Linked DNA regions of Homo sapiens. The protein of the gene in region 2 purifies or fractionates together with the protein of the main gene of each other region. This does not show direct contact. Each region holds a gene or a part of one and is shown on either strand. Other genes may lie near its edges.

The links. Proteins that work in one complex are often made in the same cells at the same time.
Region 1: the proteins of FAM13B (region 2) and HIGD1A purify together in Homo sapiens (affinity purification with mass spectrometry; one large-scale study listed by BioGRID and IntAct). This does not show direct contact.

Annotation. Positions count from the first base shown.
Region 1 is NC_000003.12:42,784,792-42,787,760, reverse strand, and holds part of HIGD1A (HIG1 domain family member 1A, mitochondrial), read left to right. Parts: intron 1-1,598; coding exon 1,599-1,733; intron 1,734-2,440; coding exon 2,441-2,490; 3' UTR 2,491-2,969. UniProt on the Homo sapiens protein: Proposed subunit of cytochrome c oxidase (COX, complex IV), which is the terminal component of the mitochondrial respiratory chain that catalyzes the reduction of oxygen to water. May play a role in the assembly of respiratory supercomplexes.
Region 2 is NC_000005.10:138,022,743-138,026,670, forward strand, and holds part of FAM13B (protein FAM13B), read right to left. Parts: intron 1-3,928.

The sequences.
Region 1 (2,969 bases), on a different chromosome or scaffold from region 2:
GTTGTTTTCTGAAAGAGACAGATTTTCCCATTTTGTTGTCTTCTAATAGAGCTAATCTTGTGTTCCTAACAATTTTTGCTCCATTTATTTATTTTGCTGCTATATTAGATTATTTTAAAGTTTTATGACTTTAAAAATTTATATATATATATATATATATATATATTTTTGAGATGGAGTCTCGCTCTGTCGCCCAGGCTGGAGTGCAGTGGTGTGATCTCGGCTCACTGCAACCTCCGCCTCCCAGGTTCAAGCATTCTCCTGCCTCAGCCTCCCAAGTAGCTGGGATTACAGGCGCATGCCACCATGCCCGGCTAATTTTTTGTATTTTTAGTAGAGATGACCAGGCTGTTGGCCAGGCTGGTCTCAAACCCCTGATCTCAGGTGATCCACCTGCCTCAACCTCCCAAAGTGCTGGGATGATGGGTGTGAGCTACTGCTCCCAGCCCTAATTTTTTTTTCCTCCTTATGATTTGGAAGTTCTGCGGCTATTCTTACACTGCTTGCTGGTGGTTATCTTTACATTGTCAAACTAGGATGTGTTTTTTTCATCTATTTCCTGTATTAAAATGAATATAAATTTATTCCCTAAGACCTTTAGCACACGTTTTGTTGTGATAATCATAGCCTAATTTCAGATTCTTAATTTTGCTATATTATACCAGTCATTTTCAAGGAACCAGTACAGATTTTTCTGTCTTTATTGCTCACCATTATATCTTAACCATTATGTCTTTATTTCTTGAACTGTCCATTTTGACTCACTGTTTTTATTTGACTGGATATTTTCCTCTAGGTTTTTGTATCAGTACCTGGGTGGCAGCTTGGGAAAGACAGCCCTCCTGTAGTCCCAGTTATTAGGGAGGCTGAGCGAAGAGGATCACCTGAGCCTGGGAGAACAAGGCTGCAGTGAGCTATGATTGTGCGGCTGCACTCCAGCCTGGGCAACAGAGCAAGACCCCATCTCTTAAAAAATAAAATAATAAATCTTAAAAAGAAAACATGGAAGGTCATGTCCTGAATGCTTTTGCCCTCAAAATGAATGAGAGTTTGGCTCTGTATAGAACTCTAGGATCATAATCCTTTTAACTGAAACTAATATTGCTCTATTCTTTTCCTTTATTTACTTCTTCCCAGTACAATATCCCAAAGTTTGAAATATTCAGGCAATGTTTCTCAGTGGTAGTAGTGTGTAGGATTGTCTCTGGTATATTAACTGATTACCTTGAGGGAGGGAAATAGGACAGAGAGGAAATGGAATAAATTCATTCTCTAAGTCAAGACCTTTGGCACACTTTCGTTCTGATAATCATAATCTAGGTTCCTGTTAATTCCCTAGCAGTTTTTTAAAGGAGTTTATCTACTGGCCCCACAAACCCATGTTTTTAAAGATAATCCTGACTTTCTGGATCTGTTGTTGTTTGCTTAAAGATTTTTGGTTTTGATAGGGGAAAACATGAAAAACTCAATTTGTATGTTAGCTAATTAATGATCTGATAAAGAATCCTCATAAAAATAATAGAATGTACATTGACTGATGGTAAAGTCATCTTGGTCCCTTCTCATGCATCTGACATACTTGTTACTTTGTTTTACAGGAATAGCGGGTTTTGCAGCAATTGTTGCATATGGATTATATAAACTGAAGAGCAGGGGAAATACTAAAATGTCCATTCATCTGATCCACATGCGTGTGGCAGCCCAAGGCTTTGTTGTAGGAGCAATGACTGTTGGTAGGTTCCTATAGGAAATTTCAAATTTTCGTTTCTCATTAAGGTATTTCTTTACAAACAAAATAGGTAAATATTTTTAGCTGACCTTTTAGCAGTTGGAGAATATCACTTATACTCATTTTCATGTAAAAAATGAATTAATGAAGATAATTCAAGTAGTGACATAGTTTTTCTATGATATATCCTACTAAGATTTTAAAGAAAAAAAAAATCCTGTCAATCACTGAGTTTATAATTTCATTGAAGAGCCTAGACATGTAATTGGGGTTGATAGTAACATCTGTTATCTGGGAGAGACATACAATTGCTATTTTATTGTGTTTTTAAAGGAGAGATTCTTAAAGTTTAGGTATTACATGCTTCTTCTATTGGCTTTATAATTCATTGACTTTATCTGGTATTATGTAGCAAGAGTGATTCCTTTCAAAGTTACCAGATAAATATTGATTGTTCTTTCAAAGAAATATTGTAACATGTGAAGTAGCCATACCAGCCCTTTGCTACTTGGGAAACTACTGTATGTAACAAGAGTTTTAGAGATTTAAGATGTTTAAGAAGGCAAGAGTATAAGCTTCCTAGGGTCTTATTCCCCTTGTAAATATTCCATGCTAGCAGTGGTGCTACTTTCAGCTATTTTATGAACTGGTTTTTATTTTTGAATATTTAAGAAAATACTGAAATGCTTAACTAGCATTCTTTTTCTTTAGGTATGGGCTATTCCATGTATCGGGAATTCTGGGCAAAACCTAAGCCTTAGAAGAAGAGATGCTGTCTTGGTCTTGTTGGAGGAGCTTGCTTTAGTTAGATGTCTTATTATTAAAGTTACCTATTATTGTTGGAAATAAACTAATTTGTATGGGTTTAGATGGTAACATGGCATTTTGAATATTGGCTTCCTTTCTTGCAGGCTTGATTTGCTTGGTGACCGAATTACTAGTGACTAGTTTACTAACTAGGTCATTCAAGGAAGTCAAGTTAACTTAAACATGTCACCTAAATGCACTTGATGGTGTTGAAATGTCCACCTTCTTAAATTTTTAAGATGAACTTAGTTCTAAAGAAGATAACAGGCCAATCCTGAAGGTACTCCCTGTTTGCTGCAGAATGTCAGATATTTTGGATGTTGCATAAGAGTCCTATTTGCCCCAGTTAATTCAACTTTTGTCTGCCTGTTTTGTGGACTGGCTGGCTCTGTTAGAACTCTGTCCAAAAAGTGCATGGAATATAACTTGTAAA
Region 2 (3,928 bases):
AAGTCTGTCAGGGAGCAAGTTTTATACATCACTAAAATGGCTACTCAGTGTTTAGAATGCCTTGTTAATGAAATCAAGAAGCTATTTTCTTTTTTTTTTTTTTCGAGACAGGGTCTCACTCTGTCACCCAGGCTGGAGTGCAGTGGTGCAATTATGGCTCACTGCAGCCTCAAACTCCTGGACCCAAGCAATCCCCTGCCTCAGCCTCCCAAATTGCTGGGCCTACATGTACACACCACCATACCCAGCTGTATTTTTAGTAGAGAGGAAGTCTCATGTTGCCCAGGTTGGTCTCAGACTCCTGGCCTCAAGCAATCCCTCCCACCTTGCTGGGATTACAGGTGTGAGCCACTGCTCCCAGTCAGGAGCCTATTATCTCATCTCATGACCTCTACTACCTGCAACCTCTAACTAGACAACCTGAAAGCATATTTTTCTAAGGTGAGGCTGGGTAGGAATCTATGAATTCATCAGTAAAAATTTACCCTTGATACTAGGAAAACAATCGGAGGCATCAACCTTTCTGACGACAAGTTTCTCTTTCTCCTGAGGATGTTGACGGATATAGCAGCAACAAACATTAAATGAGCAGTTATGATATGCCAGGCAGTTCCATGCACTTTACATGTATTAAGGTATTCTTTAACCCTTAATTAGACATTGCAAGGCTCACCAATTTACCCACAGTCCACCCAGATAATAAGGGTCAGAGGCAGAATATGAAACCAGAGAATGTGATTCTCAAAGTCCTTGAGCTCTTAATCACTATACTATTTTTTCATGTAAATTATCACAATTTATAGTATGATAGAATGTCACATTCTGGCGCTCAAACTGGCCATAGTCTTTTTCTTTTTTTGAGACAGGCTGGAGTACAGTGGCATATGCGATCACAGCTCACTGCAGCCTCAACCTCCCCAGACCTACGTGATCCTCCTACCTCAGCCTCTTGAGTAGCTAGGACTACAGGCGTGGGCCACCACACCCGGCTAATTTTTGTAAAAATGAGGTTTCACCACATTGCCCAGGCTGGTCTTGAACTCCTGGGCTCAGGCAATCCACCCACTTCAGCCTCCCAAGGTCCTGGGATTACAGGCATGATCCACCATGCCCGGCCTCAAAGTCTTATATACATTTTAGGTCATCACTTACTTCTAGCTTGCGAACAGGTACTTCCAGAGGGCAGGCCTATGGTCCAAACCCCAGGAGCCAATCTTTCACTTGGGACTTGTATCTAGAGCACATTGCTGAGAACTCTCAGACTGGAGAGTGGCCCAAGGTAACATTTCTGCAAACTGCAAAGTAGTTGACATTATTTAGTCCTGTTTCCTACCCCTTTTCAGAGCTTAAATCACATAAATATTCCCTTCACATCTGTGGTGGGTTGAATAGTGTCCCCCCCAAACCTCATGTCCACCAAGAACCTCATAATGTGACTTTATCTGGAAATAAGGTCTTTGCAGGTGTAATTAGTTAAGGATCTCAAGAGGAAATCATCCTAGATTTAGGGCAGGCCCTAAATCCAATGACTCATGCCCTTATAAGAAGAGGACAAGATACACAGAGACACACAGAGAGAAAGAAGAGCATGTGAAGACAGGGAGAAACTGGAGTTATGCTGCCAGAAGCCAAGAAATGCCAGGAACTACCAGAAGCTGGAAGAGGCAAAGAAAGATTCTCCCCTAGAATCTGCCCTGTGGACACTTCCTTTTGGGCTTCTACCCTCCTCAACTGTGAGAAAAAACTTCCTACTATTTTAGAGCCACCTAGTTTGTAGCAATTTGTCATGAAAGTCCTAGAAAATGAATGCAACACCTAAACTACAATATTACATTCTAAAAAAAAAAAAGAAAAAAAAGGAAAACAGCAGCAGGCACCGTACAAAAATATACCAAAAAGATCTAATAAAATGTCCTAGCAGATAGAATCAATAAAATGTCGAGAAAGCAGTTCAATAAAAGGATTGACACAAGAGAATACAATGTGTGGACTTTCAAAATAACCAAGTATTTCCAAAAGCATACTGTTATAAATCTAAACAGCAAAATTTATACACACACACACACACACAGAGAGAGAGAGAGAGAGAGAGAAAGAGAGAGAGAGAGAGTTTTTTGAGTTTGTTTTTTTTGTTTGTTTTTTTTTTGAGACAGAGTCTTACTCTGTCACCCAGGCTAGAGTGCAGTGGCATGATCTCAGCTCACTGCAACCTCTGTCTCCTGGGCTCAAGCGATTCTCGTGCCTCAGCCTCCTGAGTAGTAGAGATCATAGGCACGTGCCACCATGCACGGCTAATTTTTTTGTATTTTTTGGTAGAGATGGAGTTTCACCACGTTGGCCAGGCTGGTATCGAACTCCTGACCTCAGGTGATCTGCACACCTCGGCATTACAGGCATGAGCCACCACTCCCAGCCCCAAACAGCAAAATTATTTTAAATACAAGTGACAGTTGCCTAGCATGGTGTTATTGACAAGGAATAGGAAATTACATTGAATTTTACATCATATACCTCACCATGAGATAACAGTGATTACAAACAAAGCCATATATATATATATATATATATGTATTTTTTTTTTTTTTTTTTTTGAGTTGAGGTCTCACCCTGTTGCCCAGGCTGGAGTACAGTGGCCCAATCATGCAGCCTCAAACTCCTGGGCTCAAGCAAACCTCCCACCTCAGCCTCCTAAATCACTGGGATTACAGGCATGAGTCACTACTCCCGGCTCAGAAACAATGCAATTAAACACCAATTATCAATAAAGTTGGGTGACATTCAAGAAAGTGCATCTTCATACACCAGCTATCAACCTAAGTTCTACAGGGACTCAAGGTACTTTTGCATTCCATTCAATTTCATTTACATATACAAAAATACACATACATAGTAGCAGCACACACACCCCTTTTTCCCCCCATGGGCTGAAAAATTTAATATTGTTGAAATATCCATACAATCCAAAGTGGTCTACAGATTCAATGCACTCCCCATCAAAATTACAATGACATTCTTCAAAGAAACTGAAAAAGCAACCGTAAATTTTGTACAAAAGCATAAAAACCCTGATTAACACAAACAATCCTGAAGAAAATGAACAGAGCTGGAGGCATCACACTAGCCAACTTACAAATATACTACAGAGCTATATTAACCAAAACAGCATCTACAATCAACTGATTTTTGACAAATGAAACGTACCTTTCTTAATAGCACAGAATCTTTACACTTTAACTATCTACTAAAATTAGTAGTAAGGGGCTTTTAAAAAGGGGTAGAGCACCAATATCAATACTATAGATAATAATAGCAGACAGCATTTGCTGAGCTCTTACAATATGCCAGGCACTATTTCAAAGACTTTAACTATATCAACTCATTTAATCCTTACAACAACCCTAAAGGAGGCAAATACTTTCATTATATCCATTTTACTGATGAGAAAACTGAAACACAGAACTTTTTGAGGTGATGAAAATGTTCTATGTCATAACTGTGGCAGTGATAGTTACATATGAATATATTTATTAAAACGTATTGAGCTGGACATGCTGTTGTATATAAACCATACTTCAACAAAGCTGAAGAAAATGAAAAAAGAGGCCAGGCATGATGGTTCACACCCGTAATCCCAGCTCTTTGGGAGGCCGAGGTGGGCAGATCACTCGAGCTCCAGAGTTCGAGACCAGCCTGGGCAACATGGCAAAACCCCGTTTCTACAAAAAAGTACAAAAATTAGCTGGGCATGATGTCATGCGCCTGCAGTCCCAGCTACTCGGGAGGCTGAGGTGGAAGGATCACTGGAGCCCAGGGAGGTAGAGGCTTCCAGTGAGCTGTGATCATGCCACTGAACTCCAGCGTGGGCACCAGAGAGGGACCGTGTCTCAAAAAAAAAAAAAAAAAAAAAAAAAAATTGGTCAGGCACTGT